Homo sapiens: one gene and its partners. The protein of the gene in region 1 purifies or fractionates together with the protein of each later gene. This does not show direct contact. Each region holds a gene or a part of one and is shown on either strand. Other genes may lie near its edges. The genes, in order: PEX5, TYSND1, ACOX1 and LONP2.

Region 1 (7,024 bases):
GGGAGTCACATCATCATGGTTCCTGAATTTTTCTGAGATGATTAAAGGGACTGAATTGGTTTCTACCCCCACCATTTTAATTTATGTTCTTTCTTCGTTTGCTACAGATTTCAAGGTCTCAAGTCTAATTTTCCTTGAGAGCATCCATTGCTCCTCGCATCCTTTAGGATTGATTCTTCTTACCCGAAGCCTATCTGATCAGGGACAAATGTGTGTGAAGGAGGCCCATGTTTAGGATGGGCTTCTCCGCACACAAGAGAAAAATCCCAAATCTAAAAACTAAAACTCACCTTTAATAAGATCTGTGGGTCTCTTTTATCACGTGTCTCTTTCCCACCCATAAGTTGGAGTTAAGGTAGAACAGTAGGTGCTCTTGGCTTTAAGAGTGCTAATCACTTTATCTTCTTAAGCTCATTAGAACTTCACAGTAACAGTAACACAAGGTGGATATCCCACCCCCATTTTATAGATGAGGAGACTGAGATTTGGAAAAGTTAAATACTTTGTGCAAAATCATTGAATAATAGAGATGATATTCAAACTCATGTCTGTGTGGCTCTTGAGATTCTTTTTTTTTTTTTTTTTTTGAGACAGGGTCTTGCTCTCACCCAGGGTGGAGTGCAGCGGTGCAATCTGTACGCACTGCAACCTCTGCCTCCTGGCTTCAAGGGATTCTCCCGTTTCAGCCTCCTGAGTAGCTGGGACTACAGGCGTGTGCCACCATGCCCGGCTAATTTTGGTATTTTTAGTAGAGACAGGGTTTCACCATGTTGGCCAGGCTGGTCTTGAACTCCTGACCTTAAGTAATCCACCACAGCCTCCCAAAGTGCTGGGATTACAAGCGTGAGCCACCGCACGCGCCCTCACGTTGAGATTCTTTGTGAAATTGCCGCAAGTTAAAATCTGAACCATAGCAAAGACCCTCTCCAAGACAGAAACTCAGTTTTTCACATAAACCTTAGACTTAAGTGCTATCTCTTATCACAGAGAGGCTTCTGTTGTAATGTGGGCATTAGTCATTTTTGATAATTCAGAAAAATCATTGCTACTATGAGCGTTGAGATGGATGAAATTTTTGCTGTAATTACCTGAATTGCATGCAGCCATTGAAATCTTCCTTAACTTGAAATGAAAAAGAACTTTAGAAAAACATGTTTTATCTGTCTCACCAGTTAAATGCTCTTAGTAGAGCTCTTCTAGTATTTTGTAGATTCTTTTGGAATCGTGCCTGTTTCACAGAGGCAGAGACATGCAAACCTTAGAATGGGAGTTGAGCTGTTTGAAGTCTGCCTTCATAAAAATGTCTTATTGCAGCAGTATATTGCTTTGCATGTAGTAGGCCTCTGGTATTGAATGAATGAATTGAGATCTGGGAGAAAAAGCTAAAGGAAAGGAGTTCATTTTGTCGTAACTGACTTTTTTTTATTATCCTTCATTTTTAATTACAGCATTTGTGGTTGATACAATTGTATGGGTTAGCTATGGCTTTATAGATAAGTAGATTTTGAGATGAAAGAAGGTTATACTTTTTAAGTTCTTATTTTAAAATCTCCACTGTTAAGAGTCAAAATCAAGTTTAAAAAGAATGTTGCAGCTCAATTATTTAAATTTAAATTTTTTATTTGGAAGTACTTAGTTTCACTGGAAGTTGAAAAAAAAAATGTATAGGAAGGTTCTGTATACCCTTCACCCAGTCTCCTCCAGTGGTAACATTTTACATAGCAGTTATGCAGAGATCAAAAATCAAGAAGTTGCCCTTGTTTCAATCCTCAGAGTTTATTAGGTTTCACCAGTTTTACATGCCCTTATTTGTGTGTGTGTGTTTTTTGCAATTTTATTAAATGTGTAGATTTGTGTAAGCACCATCATGATCAAGATACAGAACTATTCTCTCACCACATGAAGTTCATTTTTTTAGCTTACCTTATTTTGTAATGGAATCCCCCCGTCTTAAATCTTCTGGGTCAAATAATTCTCCATCTTGTGTTTGCTCAGATCTAGAGATAAAACACATCTTCAGGGTTCTTAAATTTAGACAGCTTCGGTTGACATGGTATGTGAGGTTCATATGATAATCGTGAGAGATAAACCTGCACTTTCATGGGAAAAGCCATGGATAGCAGTAGCAGAAGATAATTGGCAACAGATCTTTTCTGGATGTTGGAGGAGAGGCTTTGGAATAACAGTCTCATTGTGATGTTTTCTGCTTTTGTTATAGGTTTGCCATGAGCAGACTAATGATAATAACTAACATTTGTTACTGTATTCATTGGTTTTCACCGCAGCCCCTACTGTTATCTCTGCTTTAAAGATAAGGACATGGAAACTTAAGAAGGTTGAGTAACTAGTCTGAAGATGCACAGTGAATAAGTGATGGAGTTAGGATTTAAATGTGGGTAGACTGACCCTACAACTTGTATTCTTCTCCACAGTGCTGCTATTTAGCAGACACAGAAACTTTCATGAGTAAGAGTAGCAAGTTCTGAGTTTTTGACTTTTGAGCTTGGGGAAGATGTGCCTAGAAGGAATGAGTAAACAACGAGAAATTATATGAGGTGCACATTTTGAGTGGGGTATTTGGTGTCTAGGTTATTCTCACTCTACTAATCTGTATGACCTCAGGCAGTGCATCCCCTCTGTAGACCTTAGTTGCCTTGATCTCAGATGTATCCACATGGATCTGATTTTCTGTAGGAATTTCTCAAAGATTGTGAAGGCAGTGTGTTACTCTTTTGATTCTTTCGGTTATTTGACTCTTGTTGGAGTAGGTTCCCAATGCCAAGAAATTCTGGGTCTTGTGGCGATTTAATCTGGCCAACTACCAAATTATAGGTATTTGAGGATAGTTTTTCTCAGCTCTGGGATTTTTTTTCTTAAACTGCCTCATATCTATTGTTAAGTCCTCATGTCTGTTGTAAAAATTCAAAGGTGCTTTGTGTTTTTTCTGTTTTTTTTTTTTTGTCCTTGAGAGGACCATTTCATAGGAATTTGAAATGTTTTCTGTGAATTTGAGGAGCACTTATGGCCAGAATATGCTTTTGCAAAATACTCTAGTTGAGAGTTAGAAGTGTTTGGAGAGTTGAGGAGGTAGTAGTTATTTTTCAACAGAATGGAGCTAAGAATTTCAACTAAGAATGGAACTAAGGAACTAGGAGATCTTAAAGTCTCTTTGAGTATTAAGCATCTCCTTTCCGTCTCCACACTTGAGGCAACAGTCTAATTGGGGCAAATGGAAGAGAAATGCTTCCTGTAAGAGCTAGTGAGCAGAATCTGTATTTAATTTTTGAGAGTCCTTGAAATTAACAGATGGATCTATGGTCAAAAAAAATTGCCAACCATATTTCTTATTACATTATACATTATATATTATATATATTATATATACATTTTACATTATATATAATGTATATATAATGTATTTCTTATGTTATAACGTATTTCTTATTACATTATGTTATATATAATGTATTTCTTATTACATATGTTACATATAATGTATTTATTACATTATATATTATATATAATGTAATATATGTTATGTAATAATTATATATGTCATATATAATTTAATTATATGTCATATTTAATTATATATGTCATAATTTATATATGTCATATATAATTTAATTATATGTCATATATAATTTAATTATATATGTCATAATTTATATATGTCATATATAATTTAATTATATATGACATATATAATGTAATAATTATGTGTCATACATATATGTGTCATATATAATGTAATAATTATATGTGCCATATATAATGTAATAATTATGTGTCATATATAATGTAATAATTACATCATATATAATGTAATAATTATATATGTCACATATAATGTAATAATTATATATGTCACATATAATGTAATAATTATATATGTCACATATAATGTAATAATTATATATGTCACATAATGTAATAATTATATATGTCACATATAATGTAATAATTATATATGTCACATATAATGTAATAATTATATATGTCACATATAATGTAATAATTATATATGTCACATATAATGTAATAATTATATATGTCACATATAATGTAATAATTATATATGTCACATATAATGTAATAATTATATATGTCACATATAATGTAATAATTATATATGTCACATAATGTAATAATTATATATGTCACATATAATGTAATAATTATATATGTCACATATAATGTAATAATTATATATGTCACATATAATGTAATAATTATATATGTCACATATAATGTAATAATTATATGTCACATATAATGTAATAATTATATGTCACATATAATGTAATAATTATATATGTCACATATAATGTAATAATTATATATGTCACATATAATGTAATTATATATGTCACATATAATGTAATTATATATGTCACATATAATGTAATTATATATGTCACATATAATGTAATTATATATGTCATATAATGTAATAATATATGTCATATATAATGTAATAATTATATATGTCATATATAATGTAATTATATATGTCATATATAATGTAATTATATATGTCATATATAATGTAATTATATATGTCATATGTAATAATTATATGTCATATGTAATAATTATATATGTCATATATAATGTAATAATTATATATGTCATATATAATGTAATCATATGTCATATACAATGTAATAATTATATATGTCATATACAATGTAATAATTATATATGTCATATACAATGTAATAATTATATATATGTCATATACAATGTAATTATATGTCATATACAATGTAATTATGTTATATATAATGTAATAATTATATATGTTATATATAATATAATAATTATATATGTTATATATAATGTAATAATTATATGTTATATATAATGTAATTATATATGTTATATATAATATAATAAGTAGTAATTACTTATTATTTATAATTAGGTGTATTCTGAGAGTCTTGATCTTTGTTTTTCACATTTTGACATTTCATGCTCAGATTTTGAGACTACTTTGTTGACATTATTCAGGCAAAGTTTCAGTTAAAATGGAGTAGAAGTTTTTGTACTTTAATACCGAAGGGGTAGTAAAAGCAAGGGTGGTCAGATCTTGAAACTGGGGACAAAGACTGCTAGTATCAGCTAATATTTTCACACCCCTGCCCAAATGTCCCTCTTTAATGCAAATTGGAGTTAGTAGGTTCTCAACAAGAGAGTGGAGTTCCCCCTTGGGAACTGTCCTTGTCATGGGCCAGGAGTGGGGAATAGCAGGGGAAGGTGGTGGCAGACTAACTAGTAAGATTAGTTCTGGACACAGGGCAGAAGGAAAGAACACCGTAGGCTTGTGCCTTCTCTTTGTTTCCTTGTGTTCTTTAGTGCCCGCAGTCAGTCTCCTTGTTTTTTTTTTCTGGCCACAGGATAGTAAAGGGCAAAGTCCTGGAGGATGAAAAACAGTTCAGCACCCTCATTGAGTTTGTTGCCTTGATAGGTTAATTCTGATGTTGCAGCAGTCCCCTTTGTCACTAGAGCTTCTGAGACAGTTTCTAAAATTAGACTGAAAAAACATAGCTACTCAAAGATAATCAAAAGTGAGAAAAGTCAGAATAGTGTTTACTTCTGGGGGCTGGGAGACTGAGGGAGCCTGTGAGGGAACTGTAAACGTTCTGTATCTTGATCCGGGTGGTGGTTATGTGAGTGTATCAAATGTGGAAGTTAATTTAGCTGTACACTTAAGTTTGGTAGACATTATATGGTTTCATATTTGTATATTACATTTCAATTAAAAAATGAAAAAACCCACCAAACATCCATAGGGAAGAGCAGACCTATGTGTCTTTAATTCTAGCCTAGCATTCCACTTCTCTGATTCTCTTGGTAGGCAAATTACAATGAAATAAGGCTCCTTTGGCCGGGATTGTGTGAACTCTGGGTAGAGGGAGAACAGACCAGTGCCTTGGTTAAGGAACAGGAGCCCTTCTGTGCTCCCTTCACTCCTTACTGGCTCCCTGCTGTACTTCTGAGGAAAGTGAAAGCCCTTCCGCTTCCTATTTCTTATTGAAATATCTTGCACTTCAAGAAAAAGAGTTTGGTTCTTAATCCTTTCCTGAGATTCCTTATTTGATCTCCCGTTCCCAACTCTCAGTAAATTTCTGCCCCAGGCTCCTTGAGAATGGGTTGGATATTGAGGATGTTGAAAATTTAGTACTATATTCTTTTGACCAGGGGTTTCTGAGGGAGTCAGCAGAGTTTTGTCTGCTTTGGTGTGGCTAAGAGGGTCAGTTGAATATGGGCATCTCTTTCCCTTTCCTTGATCCCACACTGAATGAACCTGTGTGATTTCCCCACTTCTCTGCTCCTTGCAGACCCCTTGTCTGTGTCCCCTGCCCGCTGGGCTGAGGAATATTTGGAGCAATCAGAGGAGAAGCTGTGGCTGGGAGAACCTGAGGGAACAGCCACCGATCGCTGGTGAGTTCAGATACCTCTTTCCGAATCCCGTGAAAGGAGTATGGACAGTTTTCCCAGCCTCCTCCATCCACGTTCTCGAACCAACTTACTTTATTCTTTTTTTTTTTTTTTTTTATCATTCTTGGGTGTTTCTTGCAGAGGGGGATTTGGCAGGGTCATAGGACAATAGTGGAGGGAAGGTCAGCACATAAGCAAGTGAACAAAGGTCTCTGGTTTTCCTAGGCAGAGGACCCTGCGGCCTTCCGCAGTGTTTGTGTCCCTGGGTACTTGAGATTAGGGAGTGGTGATGACTCTTAAAGAGCATGCTGCCTTCAAGCATCTGTTTAACAAAGCACATCTTGCACCGCCCTTAATCCATTTAACCCTGAGTGAACACAGCACATGTTTCAGAGAGCACAGGGTTGGGGGTAAGGTCATAGATCAACAGGATCCCAAGGCAGAAGAATTTTTCTTAGTACAGAACAAAATGAAAAGTCTCCCATGTCTACTTCTTTCTACACAGACACAGCAACCATCGGATTTCTCAATCTTTTCCCCACCTTTCCCCCTTTTCTATTCCACAAAACCGCCATTGTCA
Region 2 (7,721 bases), on another chromosome or scaffold:
CAGTGGGCTTTAAAATTTCCATTTGCAGAATTTGGTCTCTCAGGCTGTTTGGGAGCTCTTTTTTTTACATTTTTTCTCCTTTGACACCTATTTTATTGGTGTTTAAAGTAAAGGTTAACATCTGTAGCTTTTCCAGGTTTTTTTTTTTTTTTTTTTTTTTTTGGTATGAAATTGTCTTTCTCCATTGCAGAAATAAGCTAGGGAAACACTAACCCAAAAACTTTCTGTAGAGCTGTTCCTTTGGAGGCAGCATCACTTATTGGCAGTAAAGACTCAGTATAAAAGCACCGGCATCCCTACTTGGGTGATGGGGATTAATTTTATAGCATTCCATTTTCCTAGTGCCACATGTGAAATTGGATTTTGATGATCTTAATCTATATTCTACCCTTATAATAAAAGATCAAAAGATATATCTCCTATGAACAGATTGGAGATAGGAGATGAAAAGTTGGGAGGATGTCTTTATTCTAATGTGAGGGTAGGGAAAATGTGGATAACATTACTGGGGTGAGGGAGGCATTGTTCTTTAGTTGGAGTTCTCATTCTTATTCTCCAGTACTGACTTGTGGGGAAAGCATACTTTTTCACTGCCAGGTACTGAATGCAGAGGCTCAGTGAAGTATATATGTGGGAAGTGCATGCATTTCGTTTATTAGCAAACATAGCTGGATTAAGACAAAGTTGTTGGTTTGGAAAGGGGTTAAAGCCTTAAGTGAACAAATCTAGCTAACAGTGAATGAACTAGGTAATATAACTTGCATATTTTTAATTTCCTTTGGTTAAAGGTCCCCCATACTTCTCTGTTCGGAGACATGAGAAGTATGATTACTTCAGTGTTAGTTTTCTTAATTTTTTTTTTCCCCTATTTGTCCCTTGTCACTTTGTTGCAAGCTAGAAATCTGTGGGTTATACATAGGGCAGCTCTTTGTGAAAGTGGTTTATTCCACTGGAGAAAGGGGATTGAAAATCAGTTAGAACCAATGTATTTCTTGCCCCACGGAACACTATTCCTATAAGATAGCTGAAAGAAGCTGCTGTGAGGAGCTCAGCTCCAAACACAGGATCAGCACCTTGTATAGGAATTCCCATGAATTATGACTTCTCATTCTGTTTTATCAGAGTGCATATATGTCCTACTTCAGGAAAAGTAAAACAGTCATTTACGAAAGAAAGTCAATCTGTATCCTAAGCATTTTAATAAAAAGTTAAAACAAATACGCTATTTCCTTTTTTTTTTTTCATTGGTTTGTTCTGAGCTCTGAGTTTGAACAATGCCGTTTATTTGGGGAGGCAACCAAAAGTTCCCTGCATAGAGGAAGAGACATTTAGGGTGCGTGTGAGATACTTGAATTTTGCCACCAGGAGGGGGAAAAAGGCTGGGGTACTAGAAGTAATAGATTTAGTACTACTTGAGAGATTTGGAACATGCTGTGGACCCAGGGTTGTTGGTCATCTCTGCAACAGGATGGGGATGGCAGATGTTTGAGCAAAATCTATATTAACATGCTAGCAAGGACTAGTTCTAGTTTAGCTGTGTTTCACTCATTTTACACAGAATTAGAATTGGCCAGGTGTGGTGGCTCACGCTGTAATCCTAGCACTTTGGGAGGCTGAGGTGGGTGGATTGTCTGAGCTCAGGAGTTTGAGACCAGCCTGGGGAACAGGGTGAAACCCCATCACTACTAAAATACAAAAAAATTAGCTGGGCATTGTGGTACATGGAGTAGCTCCCAGCTACTCTGGAGGCTGAGGCGGAGAATCGCTTGAACTAGGAGGTGGAGATTGAAGTGAGCCGAGATCATGCCACTGTACTCCTGCCTGGGTGACAGAGCAAGACTCTCTCTAGCTCAAAAAAAAAAAAAAAAAAAAAATCAATTAAATGCTACATTTGGCAAAATGAGAAAGAAAGAATTTCCTTTACTAGGCTTGTAGGAAGACTGCTTTTACAAAAACCCAAATGAGATCATAAAACTAAAGTACTGGGACAAACAGTGGGAAACAGTGCAATGGGTTCTTTTCAACCAAGTATTAAAGTATTGGAGATATTGCCGGGCGCGGTGGCTCACGTCTGTAATCCTAGCGCTTTGGGAGGCCAAGGCGGGCGGGTCATGAGGTCAGGAGTTCAAGGCCAGCCTGACCAACATGGCAGAGCTCCGTCTCTACTAAAAATACAAAAATTAGCCAGGCACGGTGGGACGCACCTTTAATCCCAGCTACTCAGGAGGCTGAAGCAGGAGAATCGCTTGAATCGGGGAAGCGGAGGTTGCAGTGAGCCGAGATCGCGCCACTGCACTCCAGCCTGGGTGACTCCCATCTCAAAAAAAATAAAAAGTACTGGAGGTGTCCTGTTGTCCTTGTTACTGTGAAAGGATGCCATGGGTTGTATGGGCAAATGAGTTGTTTTGTTTGAGGCAGAGTGGAAAATAAGATTAGGCTCAGTCCATGAGCCTAGCACTCAACAGATCTTACTTTGGCGTTCTGGCTGTGACTTGGGACTTCTTTTTACCATGGTCTGCTGTAAACACAGAAAAACCCAATGCCTAACAGTTCATGCTGGAGTCTTGAGCGTTGAGGGAGAATCACTGGACTCGAGAGAGAAAGTTTGTTTGTTTGTTTGTTTGTTTGTTTTTTGAGTTGGTCTCACTCTGTCGCCCAGGCTGGAGTGCAGTGGTATGAACATAGGTCACTGCAGCCTTGACCTCCTGGGCTTAAGTGATCCTCCCATCTCAGCCTCCCAAGTAGCTTGGGACCACAGGGTTGCACCACCGTGCTCAGCTAGTTTTCAAAATTTTTGTAGAGTTAAGGTCTCATCATGTTGCCCAGGCTGGTCTCAAACTCCTGGGCTCAGGAAATTCTCCTACCTCAGCCTCCCAACGTGCTGGGATTCCAAGTGTGAGCCCCTGTGCTCCACCAAGAGAAAAACTCTTTGATTGCTAGGAAGTTGGGATAAAGAAATTGTGCTGTGATCAAGCCACCTTCTGTGTCATAGAACCAAAAGAAGACCGCCTGCTATGGCAAGATGGCCTAATTTTATTCCTGCCTCATACTATCATGGATAATCGTTTTCCTTTCTCTAGCAGGTTTGTGTCACTGGGAGTACTGGGAGCATTATCCTGTGTTGTGCTGGGGTTATACCAAGCAGTGTTAACTTTATTTAAAGAATTCAGGCAGAAAGATTAGAGAATTTAAGTAGCAATTGTATATGGTAAGCAATACAGTAACCTTAATAAAAATTAATGATGGCCGGGTACGGTGGCTCACGCCTGTAATCCCAGCACTTTGGGAGGCCGAGGCGGGCGGATCACAAGGTCAGGAGATCGAGACCATCCTGGCTAACACGGTGAAACCCCGTCTCTACTAAAAATACAAAAAATTAGCTGGGCGTGGTGGCAGGCGCCTGTAGTCCCAGCGACTGGGGAGGCTGAGGCAGGAGAATAGCGTGAACCCAGGAGGCGGAGTTTGCAGTGAGCGGAGATCGCACCATTGCACTCCAGCCTGGGCGACAGAGCGAGACTCCGTCTCAAAAAAATAAATAAATAAATAAAAAATAATGTGTATTTTATCAATTCAGTGATAAAGCAGACCTTTGTAAACTGTCTAGCTTGTGGTGACTGATTGAGGGTATCATGAAGCTCCGCGCCCCCCCACTCCCCGACATACTCGTTCATCCTCCTCTGTCCTAAAGCGTACTTCTTTGGAAAAGTAGAGCAGTTTATGTTAGTGTACACTAGAGATGGTAAACTATGCCTTGTGGGTCAAATCGGGCCTGCTGCCTGTGTTTGTATGGCCTGTGAGCAAAGAAAGGTTTTTACATATTTAAATGGTTGGAAAAAATATTTAAAGAATGCTATTTTTGGACACAAAAAATTGTATGAAATTAAAATTTCAATGTCTGTATCTTTTTATTGGGACACAGCCACCGCCATTCCTTTAGCTTTTGTATGCAACAGCTGCAGAGTTGACTATTTGAGACAAGTTGTATGGTCCCCCCAAACTGGAACTGTTTCCATTCTGGCCTTCTACAGAAAGTATTTGGACCCTGGCCTAGATAAATCCTGGCTGGTGGTTATGTTATGTGAAATGTGCACACTGTAAAATATAGGCCTGTATGATTAAAATTTTTGATTTCAGCTACTGTTCATAGTCGATTTAAAGGGCAATTTAATTTACAGCAAATCCAGTTTCTCGGAGATTTGTGTTGGGGCTTTGGCAGCAAAAAAAAATCCTAGGAGTAATCTTGAGAGTTCCATGCCCCCTAGTGGATTGCTATAGGGTTTACTTTTAAATTTTCAAAACACTGAATTGGCCAAGGATTTCCTTGGTCCATATTATCCCAAGGGTCAGAGGCTGAAGGTCGCCTAGACCTGGGCAGATGCTCACAGGTACTGTCGTGGCCTGGGCAAATCTAGGCACGTCAGCGCTCATTTCTATTCCCTTTCCCACATTCCAGCAAACGAGACTAGGCTTGAAGGGACCCACCCTCCTCTCCTCTGATTCCTCGTGACGCCGCACTCCTCTTACTCTCCCCGGGGCTCATCCGGGGGAATGGGGCAGATTATGTCCCACCGGTTGGACAAACTAACGAGGGCGGGGAAAGGAAAAAAAAAATCAGAATAGGAAGCCAATCAGAGCTCGGTACAAGCCCAGCCAATCGGGTCGGGTCAATTGGGGCTTAGCCAATCGGGCTCGATGAGGAAGACGTGAGTCAGAGCTTGCGCCTCTCGCTTCCAGCTGTGGGTGGCGCTAGGCAGCTTCAGCCGGACCGGGTAGGGGTCCTCGCTCGCTAGCTTGCTGTTTCTCGGAGAAGCTCCCGAGTGTCCGGCCTAGAGGCCATGAGAAGGCAGTGGGGGTCTGCCATGAGGGCGGCCGAGCAGGCGGGCTGCATGGTGAGCGCCTCCCGGGCCGGACAGCCCGAGGCGGGCCCGTGGAGCTGCAGCGGGGTAATCCTGAGCCGTAGCCCGGGCCTGGTGCTTTGCCACGGGGGCATCTTCGTCCCCTTCCTGCGAGCTGGCAGCGAAGTCCTGACCGCGGCCGGCGCCGTCTTCCTGCCTGGCGACAGTTGCAGGGACGACCTGCGCCTGCACGTGCAGTGGGCCCCAACGGCCGCGGGTCCCGGGGGCGGCGCGGAGCGGGGCCGCCCAGGGCTGTGCACGCCCCAGTGCGCGAGCCTCGAGCCCGGCCCACCTGCCCCGTCCCGCGGGCGTCCCCTGCAGCCCCGGCTTCCTGCTGAGCTGCTGCTGCTGCTGAGCTGCCCGGCCTTCTGGGCCCACTTCGCGCGCCTCTTCGGGGACGAGGCAGCGGAACAGTGGCGCTTCTCGAGCGCGGCGCGGGATGACGAAGTGTCGGAGGACGAGGAGGCGGATCAACTGAGAGCGCTGGGCTGGTTTGCGCTGCTGGGCGTGCGGCTAGGCCAGGAGGAGGTGGAGGAGGAGCGCGGGCCAGCCATGGCGGTGTCGCCTCTCGGGGCCGTGCCCAAGGGTGCGCCATTGCTGGTCTGCGGCTCCCCTTTCGGCGCCTTCTGCCCCGACATCTTTCTCAACACGCTGAGCTGCGGGGTGCTCAGCAACGTGGCCGGCCCACTGCTGCTTACCGACGCACGCTGCCTGCCCGGCACCGAGGGCGGCGGCGTGTTCACCGCGCGGCCCGCGGGGGCGCTGGTGGCGCTGGTGGTGGCGCCGCTCTGTTGGAAGGCCGGCGAATGGGTGGGCTTCACGCTGCTCTGCGCCGCCGCCCCCCTTTTCCGCGCCGCCCGCGACGCGCTTCACCGCCTGCCGCACAGCACCGCTGCCCTGGCCGCCCTTCTGCCGCCAGAGGTGGGCGTCCCGTGGGGTCTGCCCCTCCGAGACTCCGGGCCCCTGTGGGCAGCCGCGGCAGTGTTGGTGGAGTGCGGCACCGTATGGGGCTCCGGAGTGGCTGTGGCACCCCGCCTTGTAGTGACCTGTCGGCACGTGTCCCCTCGGGAAGCAGCCAGGGTCCTGGTGCGCTCCACCACCCCCAAGTAAGCCCGCAGGGCTGACGCCACTTCATCCCTTTCCAGGTCTCAGATCTGGGTCCAGCCCTAATACTCTTGAGTATTGTGCAGGCCTTTCTTGTGTCACGCGGATGCTTTGGGCGTGTAGTGGGTAGAGACCTGGAACCCTCCCCTCATCCTTTATACCCAGAACCCCTGTGGGGAGAATCTGGGGCAAGGTGTCAAGCTCGAAGCAGCTCTGGATTTGGGTACTGTGGGACACCCTGAATCCGGAACAGGGCATCTTTGAGCTCCCCTCAAAGGCTGAGTTTCTTCTGGGCAGCTTCACTGTCTGATAGCCCTGCACGCCATACCCCTCGGTTCTCTGGCCCTTTGAACAGAGATTCCCTAACCCTGCTGCTTCTCCTCTGAAAGTGATAAGGTCCCAGAGGCCCAGGATGGTGCTCTCCTGGGGTAAGGAGATGGGTATGTTAATTTTATCCATCTTTTAGTGCTTAGCCAGAGCTTCCCGTCTGAGTGAAACGTGAGTTTCTACGTAATCAGAAGGTAGGGGGGTGGCCCACGCAGCTGTACATGGTTCAGCCCAGCCTTGCAGCCCAGGCTTTTCCAAATCTCTTCCTGAATCCCCAAGCTTAGCCAGGTGTGGGTAACACTGCCCAGTTTTGCCATAGGTGTCCCCACTGTGGCCTATAGGACAGCCATGACTTTATAGGGAAGACTGATGATGAAGGTTTGCCTATGGTGTGTGGCCCCCACCAGATTCCTTCCACTCCCCCCACATGCCCCTTGCTCCTAAGGAGACTGCCAGGTCTGTTGGAAGCTACCCCTGCAGAGTGTGTAGTAGGACGCCCCTGTCTGATCCCGGGCAAGTCACTTAACCTGTCTAAGCTGCCTCCCCGGGAGTTGACGCTGAATGTCGTGGAACGGAGCCTGTCACGTCGTGTGCTACAGAAGTGTTAGCGTGTACGTAAATAGGGACCCAGAGGAGTGAAACCATGTCATATCTGACCCACCAACTGACGGGATTGTTGTGGGTATCAACGAGGCAGTGAAGGAAAGTGTTGTGTTTGCCTTGGCTCCTCCCACTTTGTTTGGTGTTGGGAATGTTACTGAGCGTCTCTGGGCCTCAGTTATACCACCTAAAATGGAGATAATGCCAGTGCCTAGTTTATAGGGTCGTGAAGACTAAATAAAGTGATGTCCACAAAACACTAACACCAAACCTGGCCCACAGTGCTCACTAAGTGTCAGGTTGATTATTCAGGTACAGGAAGCTTTAGAGAAGTAGCACAGTTTGTCAACCACCTTTGGAGATACCACAGAATGGTTACATGACTTGCCCAGAGTTGCCTGCTGGTCGATTCAGGGCTGATACCCAGATCTTCTGACTTTTACTGTCACTCTCAGCTCCTTGATTTCTCCCAAGTACTGAGGAGTCAGAAAGCTAGCCTGTCATTTGTTTCCCTTGCTCCCAGGAGTGTGGCCATCTGGGGCCGTGTGGTATTTGCCACTCAGGAGACATGTCCCTATGACATAGCAGTGGTGAGCCTGGAGGAGGACCTGGATGATGTCCCCATCCCTGTGCCCGCTGAGCACTTCCATGAAGGTAAAGGACGAAGGGCGCAGCCTGAAGGAGGGCCCCTCTGAGCTAGGGTGGGCCTCAGGAAGGAGAATCAGTGTTGGGCATTCTCATGAAGTCAGGGTAGCATTGGTCAAGGTCCTTGGAGGCCTGCCTCCCTTTTTGTGC
Region 3 (7,393 bases), on another chromosome or scaffold:
GAACCCATCAGGTGGTTATAGAGGTGGCATAGGCTATGAAAACACTGGTTGTCTAAAACAGGGGGAGATAACAATTATGAAGGGCTAGTGTACACGAGTGTGTGCTCACTAACATGAGGGGACTAAAGGAGTGTCCCCACTAGATGTTCCTGTTTTTCTGGTGGATCTGGGGAAAAAGAGGTGGGGAGGATGCTGGGGTTGCTATGCAATTCTCACCGAGGGAGGAATTTGCTGGTATAATGATTATACATTTTTCTTTCTTTCTTTCTTTCTTTTTTGAGATGGAGTCTCGCTCTGTCTGCCAGGCTGGAGTGCAGTGGCGGGATCTCGGCTCACTGTAACCACTGCCTCCCGGGTTCAAGCGATTTTCCTGCCTCAGCCTCCTGAGTAGCTGGGAATACAGGCGTGTGCCACCATGCCCGGCTAATTTTTGTATTTTTAGTAGAGACGGGGTTTCACCATGTTGGCCAGGCTGGTCATGAACTTCTGACCTCAGGTGATCCACCCACCTCGGCCTCCCAGAGTGTTGGGACTACAGGCGTGAGACACCTCACCGGGCCTCTTCCTTTTTTCTTTCTTTTTTTTTTTTTTGAGCCAAGGCGGGCAGATCACTTGAGGTCAGGAGTTCGAGACTAGCCTGGCCAATGTGGTGACACCCCGTCTCTACTAAAAATACAAAAATTAGCCAGGCATGATGGCGGGTGCCTGTAATCCCAGCTACAGGGAAGGCTAAGGCAGCAGAATTGCTTGAACCCGGGAGGCGGAGGCTGCAGTGAGCCGAGATCATGCCACTGCACTCCAGCCTGGGCGACAGAGTGAGACTCTGCCTGAAAAAATAATAAATAAATAAATAAATAAAACTATGATCAATGCTTGAGCCTAAGAGTTTGAGGCTGCAGTGAACTATGGTTGCGCCACTGCATTCTAGTCTGGGTGACAGAGCAAGGCCTTGTCTCAAACAAAACAAAACAAAGCAAAACTATGATCAAATACATGTGTATGCCTTTTCTCCTATTAATCACTTGTGTGGTATTCCTGCCAAAAATGCATCATCTGAATCTAATCATGAAGAAATATCAGACAAATCTGAATTAAGGGACATTCTACTGTAGGTGCCAAGGGGCCCTCTGAAGTTTCGCTGCAAAAAATCAACTTACAAAAGGCAGAGTAATAGTCAAAAATGTGTACAAATTTATGTAACATGTACATATGGGAGCCTTCAGAAGGAAGACCCAAAGATACAGGGGAAATTGTACATTTTTATGCAAATGATTGAACATAAAAGGTATGATCTAATGCTGATAGACTGAGTGGGGAGGCCCAGCAAGGCCTGTCTGTCTAGATTCTTCTTGGCCTCTTGGAACAGGCATTCCTTCCTTCTGGGTGTGGGGGAGGACCCTCTCTGGAATGGAGTCTTATGGCCTACAGTCAAACAAGCTAGGTCAGATAATTTCTTTTTGGCCAGTTTTTACACCAAAAGAAGGAGGGAAAGTTAAGAGTAATATATTTAGGGTTTTTTTTGTTTGTTTTTTGAGACAGAGTCTCACTCTGTCGCCCAGGCTGGAATGCAGTGGTGCAATCTCGGCTCACTGCAACCTCTGCCTCCCCGGTTCAAGCGATTCTCCTGCCTCAGACTCCCGAGTAGCCGGGACTACAGGCACATGGCACCTCGCTCGGCTTTTTTTGTATTTTTAGTAGAGACGGGGTTTCACCGTGTTAGCCAGGATGGTCTCGATCTCCTGACCTCGCTATCCACCTGCCTTGGCCTCCCAAAGTGCCAGGATTATAGGCGTGAGCCACCGCACCCAGCTTATATTTAGGGTTTTATGGCTGGCTTTGGGGGTAAATGACTCTGTTTTCTATGACCTGCCTTGGGGAAGAGGATTCTAACTTCTCTGGCTAGGCTCGGGGGAGAATGCACCTGAGGGAGAGGAGGACAGAAGGTAAAAAAAAAAAAAAAAACAACTTGCTTTGTGGGTTGCTTCTGAGGCCTTCATTTTGGGGTATTGTTTTCTGAGACCCAACACTACAAAACAATGGGCTTATACACTTCAAAAGTGTTAATGTCAGCCAGCCAGGCGCAGTGGCTCACGCCTGTAATCTCAGCACTTTGGAAGGCTGAGGCGAGCGGATCACATGAGGCCAGGAGTTGGAGACCAGCCTGGTCAACATAGTGAAACCCTGCCTCTAATAAAGACACAAAAATTAGCCAAGTGTGGTAGTACATTCCTGTAGTCCCAGCTACTCTGGAGGCTGAGGCATGAGAATCATTTGAACCCAGGAGGCGGAGGTTGCAGTGAGCTGAAATCATGCAACTGCACTCCAGCCTGGGTGACAGAGGAAGACATCATCTCAAAAGAAAAAAAAAAAGCGTTAAAGTCACAGAAGAAAAGTTCTTTGTTCTATTCTTGTAATTCTCGTGTAAATTTGAAATTATTTCAAAATAAAAACTCAGCAAATTTAGCTCTTCATCTAAGTCTTTTCTATTCAATGCTAAGTACACCCCTTATCATTGTTACATTAAGAGCAATTGGTTTCCTAGAATATTAGAACTAGAAGGTCAGCTGTCAAGCAGCCATTTGTTCACTCCACAAAGATTTCCTGAGCACCTTTAGCGGGGCAGGCACTGTGCCAGGTACAGAGAATAAACTAGACACCCTCTCTGCTGTTGAAGGGGCCTGAGATCAGCAGCTTAATAAGACAAATGAGGATCCTGAGGTCCTAGGGGTTAAGAGTGTGTATTATAGTTCTATTATTCAAATTATGAATGTTATGCATCTCTCGTAGTTTTACTTCTGAGAAAACCAAAGTCATAGTATTACACAGACTACAGACAGGCTAGGCGCAGCGGCTCACGCCTGTAATCCCGGCGCTTTGGGAGGCCGAGGCAGGTGGATCAACAGGTCAGGAATTCGAGACCAGCCTGGCCAACATGGCAAAATCCTGTCTCTACTAAAAATACAATTAGCTGGGTGTGGTGGCGAGCCCCTATAATCCCAGCTACTCGGGAGGCTGAGATAGGAGAATCGCTTGAACCCAGGGGGTGGAGGTTGCAATGAGCTGAGATCATACCACCACACTGCAGCCTGGGCGACAGAGCGAGACTCCGTCTCAAGAAAAAAAAAAAAAATGACTAGAGATGATTCAACAAATCCCTGAATCTCCCTTGTCTACAATCCCACTGGGCAGAACTGTTTTTGTTTTTTGTTTTTTTTCTGTAGAGACAGGGTCTCACTATGTTGCCCAGGATGGAGTGCAATGTCACAATCTTGGCTCACCGCAACCTCCACCTCCGGGGCTCAAGCCACCATCCCATCTCAGCCTTCAGAGTAGCTGGGACTACAGGCGCATGCCACTACACCCAGCTAATTTTTTGGTATTTTTTGTAGGGATGGGGTTTTGCCATGTTGCCCAGGCTGGTCTTGAACTCCTGGGCTCAAGTGATACGCCCGCCTCGTCCTCCCAAAGTGCTGGGATTCCAGGCGTGAGCCACCGCGCCCGGCCCTACACTAGGTTTTAACAGTAAGTGTGCATTTCCCACTTTGATGACGGTGATGGCGAAAGCAAAGAAGTCTGGATTCCAAGACCTCTAGTAACTGCCAGGTTGCGGGGGAAAATGTCTGGTTTCCCAGACAGAAGGCTTAGAGCAGCACCGCCCGCTTGGTCTCATTCTAAGTCCCCGTCCACCCCTTGAACAGCGCTCACAATCCCACACCCAGGGCCCCGGAACCCACGCCTCTGCCAGTAAAGACGCCATTATCTTAACAAAAGGTAACTGGAGCCTCTCCCCAAAGAGACTGGTTCCCGTCCCATTCTTCTCCAATCCGGGTGGATTTGGCAAAAGCCCAAGTGACCCTCCCTAGCAATTCCGCAAAGCCCCATCTCCCGCCCCAGACTCCAGAGTCTCCCGACCACTCTCATTTCGGAGAGGCCTAGGGGCACGGACCCGGAAGCGTGACAGAGGCCGCGGGGTAAGAGGGGGGCAAGTGCAGGCGCAATCCCTCCTCAGCCTCGTTGTCCCGCCCCCTTCCCAAGGCCCCAGCCAACCTGTTCTAGGCGTCGCCGGTCCTCGGATTTCTTCTTTCCGCCTCGCGTGGTCACGTGACGGGGGAGGGGCGGGATACAAAAAGTGCTTTATTTTCCCACTCCCCGGACGCCCAGCAGGGCAGTTTCTTGACCTTCGGAGCCCCTTTCCCGAGGATCCGCTCGGGAGCCTCCCCTGGCCAGGAGCAGGGGATTAGTCTGCCCCGCGACCGGCCCCAGCCACGACGCGGACATCGCCCCCTCTGTCTGGGCCGCTGTCACTCACGCGCCAAAGGGCCACGGAGAAAGAAGGGGCGGGCCGGGGCGGGCCGGGCGAGCGGAGGCGGGGACTTGCGCCGTCCTGAGGCTGCCTCCTAGGGTCCGGCCGGCGCTGGAGCTGCGGATTTAGATTGTCACTGCCACCTCGGTCGGTGCTTACTTCGCTGCCAGCTGGTCGTCGCCATGAACCCGGACCTGCGCAGGGAGCGGGATTCCGCCAGCTTCAACCCGGAGCTGCTTACACACATCCTGGACGGCAGCCCCGAGAAAACCCGGCGCCGCCGAGAGATCGGTGAGGGCGGCGGGCGAGACCTCCCTCCTTTCCCGAGAAAAGCTGGAGACTCCCTCGATGCGGAGTCAGGGGCGCTGTGGGGCCTAGGCCCTCTGGCCCAGCGTTAGGGGAGCCGGGACCCCCACTTCGAGGAACAGCCTGTGTCCCTGGTGGGGGGATATCGCCATTCCCCAGGTGTGTCCGCGACTCTGAAGCCTATTGTGATTCAGGGAGGGTGGAACGGAGGCCCGAGTGTCTGTCTGCCTTTTAATGCCCTTTAACCCCCTTTCAGAGAACATGATCCTGAACGACCCAGACTTCCAGCATGAGGACTTGAACTTCCTCACTCGCAGCCAGCGTTATGAGGTGGCTGTCAGGAAAAGTGCCATCATGGTGAAGAAGATGAGGGAGTTTGGCATCGCTGACCCTGATGAAATTATGTGGTTTAAAAAGTAGGTATGCCTTAGAACAGAGCAAGTGTTGTTAAGCCTAAACTTTACAGCTGCGGTCTATGGTGGCCTTTCATCACCGTGCTTGGTGTTTGAAGATGCAAACTGGCATATTTTCATGCAACTTTATAAAGTTATATGTGTGGCCGGGCGCGGTGGCTCACGCCTGTAATCCCAGCACTTTGGGAGGCCGAGGCGGGCGGATCACCAAGTCAGGAGATCGAGACCATTCTGGCTAACACGGTGAAACCCCATCTCTACTGAAAATACAAAAATTAGCCGGGCGTGGTGGCGGGCGCCTGTAGTTCCAGCTACTCGGGAGGCTGAGGCAGGAGAATAGCGTGAACTAGGGAGGCGGAGCTTGCAGTGAGCCGAGATCGCGCCACTGCACTCCAGCCTGGGCAAGAGTGCGAGACTCCATCTCAAAAAATAAATAAATAAATAAATAAATAAAGTTATATGTGTGAAAAATAATGTGATCACTTTTGTATCCAAGCCTTTTCGTGGGATGACGTGTTTGTAGAATGCTGATAATAAATGGAAATGCAGGAGTTTTTGTTCTCAAGAGTACAGTTTCAAGGATGTTGTAAAAGCATTGTTCTGCCCAAGCAACTCAAATTTGACTGATTTAAATGCAGAATCATTTTGCTCTTTGTAAGGAGGACTGCTAAAATTCTGAATCTGGGAGCATTTTTTTTTTTAGTTGCACGACCATTTAAATATTTTGGAGCAATAGCAGATTATATTATATGGTAGTGTGGACCTGGATGAAGAATGATCTGTGACGCCTCTGAATGAATAGAAAGTCTAAGAACCCAGTAGTTCTGAATCCATGACAGTGCTTGAATGGTTGTCTTGTGCATATGAGAGAGACGTCATAAAAACCTGCCTTGGTTCTAGTGTGGAAGAGAGTATATCCTTTTTTCAGACCATGTGTTTTGTTGTGTTTTTTGTTTTTGTTTTTGTTTTTTGAGACGGAGTCTCGCTCTGTCGCCCAGGCTGCAGTGCAGTGGCACGATCTCGGCTCACTCCAGCCTCCACCTCCCGGATTCAAGCGATTCTCCTGCTTCAGCCTCCTGAGTAGCTGGGATTACAGGCGCCCGCCACCACACCCGGCTAATTTTTGTATTTTTAGTAGAGATGGGGTTTCGCCATGTTGCCAGGCTGGTCTCAAACTCCTCACCTCGTGATCCACCCTGCTCCACAAGGAACGGTAAAAATAAATAAAAATAAGGACTTCGGGCCGGGCACAGTGGCTCATGCCTGTAATCTCAGCACTTTGGGAAGCCAAGGCAGGTGGATCACTTGAGGCCAGGAGCTCGAGACCAGCCTGGCCAAAATGGTGAAACTCTCTCTACTAAAAATACAAAAATTAGCCGGGCCTGGTGGTGCGCTTCTGGGGTCCCAGCTATTCAGGAGGCTGAGGCAGGAGAATCCCTTGAACCTGGGAGGCAAAGGCTGCACTGAGCCGAGATCACGCCACTGCACTCCAGACTGGGCAACAAAGAGAGACTCTGTCTCAAAAAAAAAAAAAAAAAAAAAAAAGACTTTTTTGCCTTAACCTAAACAAACACTATTACATGATCCTAGTACAAGATTATTTTGGCCTATAGCATTTTTTTCTCATTTATTCCTGGGCATTTTCTCTTTTAGGTTTCTCCATTTTAAAGGAACTCCAGTATTTTCATCGGTAAAGACTAAATCGTATGAGTGGTGTATAGACTAGAACCAAGCTAAATAGAACATGTTGCACGTTCTGCCTTTATGGTAATAATGGTCACTGCCTCTAGTGCCTTTGGTATCGATTTTCAGCTTGACTTGGGTTATTTTTGTGAAGATGAAATGGTTTACTCTGGCACTTTGGACTTTCCTCAGAGCTCCACTCAGTTTTAAACGAAAAAATTTTGTTTATTTATTTTTGGTAGTTCAAATCAGCATACTTCCAAATGGTCTGTTTTGTTTTTGAAGTTTGTAACTCATGGCTGTGGGGATATTGAGATAGAGTAACTCCTCCTAGAAGATTATGTTACTGATACCTGTGTTGTGTTTGTAAATTTGAAAAAATTAGTAAGATTTTATTCCTTCTTGAAACGTCAGGAAAAAAGTGGGTTGAGTGTGTGTGTGTGTGTTTGAATGGGTGGTGCAGTGCATTTCAAAGCTGATAGAGATGATTTCATAACCTGTGACCTGTTGATAATGTGAACCAGACTCGAGTGAGGTCACAATGAAATAGAACAAAGTCTTTTATGCGGGTTAAAGATTCATGGACACCGGGAAGTTGTTTTGTGTATCATTTTTCATGTGAAGTATTAAAGTACAAACTTTAACACACCCTTTGACACACTTCCAATGTCCTTAGGATATGACAAGG
Region 4 (7,024 bases), on another chromosome or scaffold:
ATAAAATAACTCAATGTGAAGCTGTTTTACATTCAGTAGAGCTAGAACTAGGGTGTCAGTGAGGTGATAACTAGAGTTGACGCAAGACAGATAGGCCCAAGACAAGTTGCAAACGGTCTTAATGTTATACTAAGAAATTTGGTGTCCATCCTATAGCCATTAAAGTCTTTTACTCAAGGGAATGGGATGCCCCAGACTTCTTTTAGAAAGGCTCAGTGAAGAGAAAAGGTTCAAGACAGAAGAACTAGGAGACAGGATGCTATTGAAGAAGTTCATTGAAGAGATGCAGAAGTAGAAGTAGATGCAGAAGGGGATGAAAGAGAATAATTGGAAATAACTTTAATGTCTAAAAAGAGAAATTATAAAATTAGTATACATTAACTCAATGAAATTAACAAAAGTACTTAATATGAACATCAGACATGGATACAAAAACAAAACATATAATTGAATATGAACTGAGCCCAGAAGACGAACAAAAATTAAATTTGATGCATGATGACAGTAAGATGTGTGGTGATCTATTTATTTCTAAAAATTCCTTTAATGTCACTGCAAAATCTTTACAAGTTTAAAAAGTTCCTCTAGATTCAAAGTACAAAGAAGTAAAAGCAAAGCAAAAGAGGCTATGAAGCTATCTATGTCCAATAGAGGCACAAAGACCCAGGGAACATCACTGCTGAAAAGAAAAAGAAATTCTATTTCTCTCAATCTCCTTTATTCCTAAGCAGTATATTCACTTATTCCAGTTTTCAAACTGAAATTTCTTTCCTCAAAGTGCTTTCTTTCAGCCCATATAGAAATTACAGATTCAAATTTTCTATTTTTCTTTTTTTTTTTTTGAGTCAGGGTCTCGCTCTGTTGCCCAGGCTGGAATGCAGTGATGCAATCTTGGCTCACTGCAACTTCCACCTACTAGGTTCAAGTAATCCTCCCACCTCAGCCTCCCCAGTAGCTGGGACTACAGGCACGCACCATCACACTCGGCTAATTTTTGTACATTTTGTAGAGACGGGATCTCACCATGCTGCCTAGGCTGATCTCGAACTACTGGGCTCAAGCAATCCACCCACCTCAGCCTCCCAAAGTGCTGGGATTACAGGTGTGCACCAGCGCACCTGGCCCTCAAATTTACTATTTTTCTGTTATTGTTCATTACACTGTAAGTATGGCTCTTCAAATGCCACATCAGATACAAATACCACTGGCTATGAACACTTGCCCCACACATATTTCAATGATCAGTAGTATTTATAATTGTGACTTTTAAACATTATCTGATCCTCATAGATCTAGTTATAGTCACTGGATTAAACTAATAGAAAAGTAGAAGACTATACTTTATAATTTTATGTTTCATTAAGGTTTGAAACAAAATGGGGTGGGAATAGGAGCTTTCTGTTCTATCTAGAGTTAACCAAAAAGAACTAGAATTAAAGAGTCAAATATTTAATGCATATCTAAAATGTGCTTCCTTCCCAGCATTCTAGTTAATCAAGGTTTTAACCATACTTGAAATCAGCCCACCACAGGCTTGATCTACCATAGTTACTGCTAGACAATGTGATCTTGACTTTTGAAGTAATATATTGTAATTTATATAAATGGTGCCTAGATATTTTAGTGACAGACAGCTTCTGTGCAGTATTTCGTTTTTTAGCTTTAAATATTTAGGTTTAATAATTATCTAGTTTAGAGACAGTAGAAGTTAGAAGGAAAGCTGTAGAAATAACATTTGGAAAACTTTAGAAAGGGTAGGCCAATATGTCCTGGAATGATTTAGGTACAACCCCAGATAAGAGTAAATCAGAATTAATATATAATGTTACTAACTCATTTAAATGTATACTGTCCTAAAACTTCACTATCCAACAGATTCACCATATCTTAGGAAAGCAAAAGAACCAAAGAAAAATGGGTTTTAAGAAAAAATAAAAGCAACTTACTTGTACTGCATATTTGTAAAACTGCTCTGATAGTTCTCCTAGCTCCTCCCTCATTTTACAGGTGTTGGGAAACTCCTCAAGTCGGTCCAACTGCTCCACTTCAGCAATGGGATATGGCTTCTCTTTTAAGACCTGTACAATCTGGAAACGGCATAGGCCTGTAATCAACAGAGTGTAGTGGGGCTTGGGCCAGTTACTGCCCACAACCTGAACGGCCAGTGCAGCTGTGCCAATCCTGAAAAACACACAAAACATCGGTATTACAAACATTCAATACGGTAGAACAGAAACTCACTTCAGAAAGTGTTGGCTTTTCTGATACATTCATTAAGCAAAAGACATCTGAAGTGTAAATAAATTTTTTCTCTATTTAACTTAGCATCCAGTATGTGGCCTCTTCTGCCACTACCCTCAGCTATATGGCAAAGCAGACCATCTCACTATAATCTGCACCTCTTTTAAAAAATTAGGTAGGAATTTGTAAACACTTGGATTATTCAAGCGTAAAAATGTAAGAGAAAAGCAGCTGAGAATTACATATCTTAAATTAACATTGTCAACTAAGAATAAGGCAATCTTATACCAGGATAAATATTATCAATTTAAATACATTTAAATATAAATAGCATAAACCAATCTAAGAAATCTCCGTTCCAACACCAGTTGTGCTACTAACATCAAGTCAGTTTTCTTACATAATCAGTCTATGAAACTTCCACATACCCACCTTATCACAAGCTGCCATCACATACTGGGAACTTATATATATGCCCTTAACACTGAATTTCTAAGTGTGAGGGCTAAATATTACAGTCCACACACTGCCATAGACTGAGGAGAGCTAAAGAAAGACCCACATCTCAAAAGGTCTCAACCTAGTTCTAAGTGGTAATCATTTTACCTAACAATAGGTGAAAAGGCTTCAAGTCTCAGCTCCTCATCAGCAAATACAACTCTGATCAAGTCACATATAAATTTAATTCACAGAAAGGAAGCCTCATCCAAACTAAGTCAGTTATATAAAATACAAAAATCAACATTGAGAAGACAATTCCAGATCCCAAAATAAATAATATTTTCTCCCTTCAGCCATAGGAAAAGTGGTAATTCCAGAAAAGAAAATAGAAGGACTAGAACTCTCAACACCCTAGGAAAGCGGTAATAGAAGAACACCACACCTGCCCATCTCAAAGATAATAAATCATGTAATACAGTATGTGACTATGTGAGTGAACTTGCTTACTTCTATACACAGTGAATTCTTGATTACTTCCTTATAAATTACTCATTCCGTAGATTACACATAGCCTTTGGCTTCTTTCTGCCACTCAGTTTATTCTGAACTACGTCTATCCTTTTCTTACCTTTCAGTCATTACCATGTTTACAATAAAAACTGATTTAAATAATAAGCCAAACAACTGAGAAGATAAATTGGTGAGGGAAAAAAATCACATACATAAAAAACTTGAAATTATTTAGCAATTAGCTATTATTTTGACTTATTTGTGTTGTGGCTGCTTTTCTTCAATCAATAGTAGATAATATTTCCCACTTCCTGAAAGCCCACTCAGATTGCCTGAGGAAGTGAGCCACCTCTAAACTGATTAGAGAATAACTTAAACATAATTAATTGCAGATGATATTCATCACTGTTTGTACAATGCTGAAAGAGCTCACAGTCCTGTTTGTATATAAAACATCCACAGACAAGAAACTGGATCCCCGGCCTAAAGGGTTTACAAAGTAGAAACCAAGGAGGAACCAGAAAGAGAGATGAGACAAATCCAAATCTCCGATCAGGAGACAAATTTAATTATTTGGGCTATGTCATTGCTAAAAGGTGATGCTAAAGAGTTGTTTTTTGTTTTTTGTTTTTTTTTTTTGAGACGGAGTCTCACTTTGTCACCAGGCTGGAGCGCAGTAGCCTAATCTTGGCTCACTGCAACCTCCGTCTCCCAGATTCAAGTGATTCTCCTGCCTCAGCCTCCCAAGTAGCTGGGACTACAGGCACACACCACCACGCCCAGCTAATTTTTTGTATTTTTTGTAGAGATGAGGTTTCACCATGTTGGCCAGGATGATCTCGATCTCTTGACCTCATGATTCGCCCACCTTGGCCTCCCAAAGTGCTGGGATTACAGGTGTGAGCCACTGTGGTTTTTTTGTTTGTTTTTTAGAGGGAGTCTCACCCTGTCGCCCAGCCTGACGTACAATGGCGTGATCTCGGCTTATTGCACTCTGCCTCCTGGGTTCAAGGGATTCTCGTGCCTCAGCCTCCCAACTAGCTGGGATTACAGGCACACACCACCACGCCCAGCTAATTTTTGTATTTTTAGTAGAGACAGGGTTTCACTATGTTGGCCAGGCTGGTCTCGAACTCCTGACCTAAGGTAATCCACCCACCTCAGCCTCCCAAAGTGCTAGGATTACGGGCGTGAGCCACCACACCTGGCCAAAAGGGGTTTTCTTATAAAGCAAATACAATATTTTTGCTGTGAAAGGAAGATGTTCCAAACTGAAGAGATTAAGCTGAATTTATACTATGCCTACAAAAGGTACAGATGTATACATGCCTTAATTGCTTTTTACTTAAAATCACTTATAGTTGACTAGAAATTATCCCTTTAAAAAAATTTTTTTTTCTTTTTTTAACAGAGATGGGATCTCATGATGTTGACCAGGCTGATCTCCAACTACTGGCCTCAAGCAATCCTCCCATCTTGGCCTCCCAAAGTGCTAGGATTACAGGCAAGACCCACCTCGCCCAGCCTAGAATACATCCCTTTTAAAGAAAAACATCTATGAAATTATAGATGGCTAGAAACAGAGTACCTGGTGAGACACTGTGGGTGAAAAGCATAGTGAAAAAGAATCTATTGTATATTGGGCCCCAGGTTTTATATATACAAACAGGTAAATAAACAAAATACTCAACTAATATTTTCCTTCTATGATATACAAAAGGTTGTATATCAAGTCAGTCATTTTTCTAAAAATTCTGGCTCTTCTATTGTATGTGCATTATTAGGCATGCTCAAAAGGCAGCATTTTAATTTTGCAACAGATCCAAACTTATACATCCCAATGACTGGTGTCCTTCCCTTTAGCTAGTAGCTCTGTAAATCTACATCCTAATTATGATATTGTTCAAAGAAGTTTTGAAACTCCTAACTCGAATCTACCCTCAGAGGTTTTAAGATAATGTTTTAATCCAAATCCTAACTCGAATCTACCCTCAGAGTTTGTAAAATATTGTTTTCATTCAAGTGAGGTCTGACTACAATGGTTACAATTTGTGTAATTTGGAAACTGACCTAAATAATATAAGAGTTCCAAACATATTTAAGAACCATCAACTGCAGTAGTGGGAAAATCTAAAAGCAGCACTACTGGAAAAAGTTTTCCAAGATGAGGATATTATGTAAATATCTAATTCCAGCCTATATGCCCAGCACTTGCTTTTTTTTTTTTTTTTTTTCCTATAGACAGAATCTTGCTCTGTCACCCAGGCTGGAGTGCAGTGGTACGATTATAGCTCACTGCAGCTTCGATCACCTGGGCTCAAGTAATCCTCCGCCTCAGCATCATGAGTAGATGGGAGTACAGGCACGTGCCACCAGGCCCAGCCACTTTTAAAAAATTTTTTTACTCAAAGCCCTTAATTTTTCTTGGAATCTTTAATCTTCCAAGACCTTCCTGCAATGATGTTAGTTCAGTTCAGCCCGTGTTGGAATAATATGGGGCCTCCCCACTCCTCTCTTTAATCCCCTTTTGTGAAAATCTACATTTAAAACTACCCATTTGGATATAGGTTTAGAATGCTTTGCAGTTTCAAAAGGCTTTCATATGTATACTTCATTTTATACCTCCCTTCACCCCATGAAGAAGGTAGTATTATTTCCTTATTACAAGTGAGTAAATGAGATTCAAAAAGGTAGAACATGGCATGGTGGCTCACACCTATAATCCCAGCACTTTGGGAGGCCGAGGCAAGTGGATCACTTGGGCTCAGGAGTTCGAAACCAGTTTGCGCAACATGGCAAAACCCCGTCTCCACCAAAAAAAAAAAAAAAAAATAGCTAGGCATTGTGGCACATGCCTGTAATCCCAGACACTCAGGAGGCTGAGGTGAGAGGATCACTTGAACCTGGGAGGCAAAGGTTGCAGTGAGCTGAGATGGCACCACTGCACCAGCATGGGTGACAGAGTGAGACCCTGTCTCAAAAAAATTAAAGTAGAACAACTTAGGTGTACATGGTTACAAGAAAATGTAATAGAAATAAATTTAAGAAATAAATTTAAATTTAAAATTTAAAGGATAAATTTAAATTTAATAAATTGAGTTCCTTAATTATATTTTAAGACAAATTTTACTTTTTTCTCATTACAATGGACAATAGGTACCACTTCTACCTACAAGAATTATAAACATAGGCCAGGCATGGTGGCTCACGCCTGTAATCCTAACACTTTGGGAGACAGAGGCAGGAGGATCACTTGAGCTCACAAGTTTGACACCAGCCTGGTGAGGGAGACTGAGAAGTCGGCACTATGAGGAAATGAAGCCATGTACCCTGAAAAGTGTAAATTTGGAAGAAAGCTGGATGACCATCTTGAAATGCTTGAAAGGATATTGTACAGGTAGTACTAAATTATGACCCCTTTTCACTAAGAAAACAATGGGTCACTCAGGAAGCACTAAAAATGCAGTTCTACTAAGCAGAAAAATGCAGGGTGCCCTGGGTCAGCATGCCAGCCAAGTTCTATACTGCAGGACAAGTCCAAAGCTCCTCCTTTAAAAAGGCTCCTGCAGGCAACATGCCTGCACACTAACGTGCAGAAAGGGACTGTACTACTCAAAACCACCAAGGAAGTGGCAGAGGTAAGTCAACATCTAATCCTGCCACTCTGTGTGGCAAAGAACGCTGGGAGCAAATTACTTCTGCTGCTCTTTGAAGGCTGTGCCAGCGTCACCTGGATAGCGCAAAGGAAACAAGAGAAAGGAACAGAGCCCCTCTTCTGGCCTCTGGGCTACCATACAGAAAAGCAGGTAACTGGGGAAGGACAGACTTGTGC

The links.
Region 2: the proteins of PEX5 (region 1) and TYSND1 purify together in Homo sapiens (affinity purification with mass spectrometry, with the first as the bait; 2 studies listed by BioGRID). This does not show direct contact.
Region 3: the proteins of PEX5 (region 1) and ACOX1 purify together in Homo sapiens (affinity purification with mass spectrometry; 3 studies listed by BioGRID, with this or other methods). This does not show direct contact.
Region 4: the proteins of PEX5 (region 1) and LONP2 purify together in Homo sapiens (affinity purification with mass spectrometry, with the first as the bait; 2 studies listed by BioGRID). This does not show direct contact.

What each region holds. Positions count from the first base shown.
Region 1 is NC_000012.12:7,192,667-7,199,690, forward strand, and holds part of PEX5 (peroxisomal biogenesis factor 5), read left to right. Parts: intron 1-6,344; coding exon 6,345-6,447; intron 6,448-7,024.
Region 2 is NC_000010.11:70,143,701-70,151,421, reverse strand, and holds the start of TYSND1 (peroxisomal leader peptide-processing protease), read left to right. Parts: upstream 1-4,721; 5' UTR 4,722-4,835; coding exon 4,836-6,001; intron 6,002-6,693; exon of another isoform or gene 6,694-6,937; intron 6,938-7,449; coding exon 7,450-7,580; intron 7,581-7,721. UniProt on the Homo sapiens protein: Peroxisomal protease that mediates both the removal of the leader peptide from proteins containing a PTS2 target sequence and processes several PTS1-containing proteins.
Region 3 is NC_000017.11:75,976,166-75,983,558, reverse strand, and holds the start of ACOX1 (peroxisomal acyl-coenzyme A oxidase 1), read left to right. Parts: upstream 1-4,392; 5' UTR 4,393-4,485; coding exon 4,486-4,594; exon of another isoform or gene 4,595-4,768; intron 4,769-4,865; coding exon 4,866-5,025; intron 5,026-7,393. UniProt on the Homo sapiens protein: Involved in the initial and rate-limiting step of peroxisomal beta-oxidation of straight-chain saturated and unsaturated very-long-chain fatty acids.
Region 4 is NC_000016.10:48,247,288-48,254,311, reverse strand, and holds part of LONP2 (lon protease homolog 2, peroxisomal), read right to left. Parts: intron 6,999-7,024; exon of another isoform or gene 6,773-6,998; intron 2,182-6,772; coding exon 1,947-2,181; intron 1-1,946. UniProt on the Homo sapiens protein: ATP-dependent serine protease that mediates the selective degradation of misfolded and unassembled polypeptides in the peroxisomal matrix.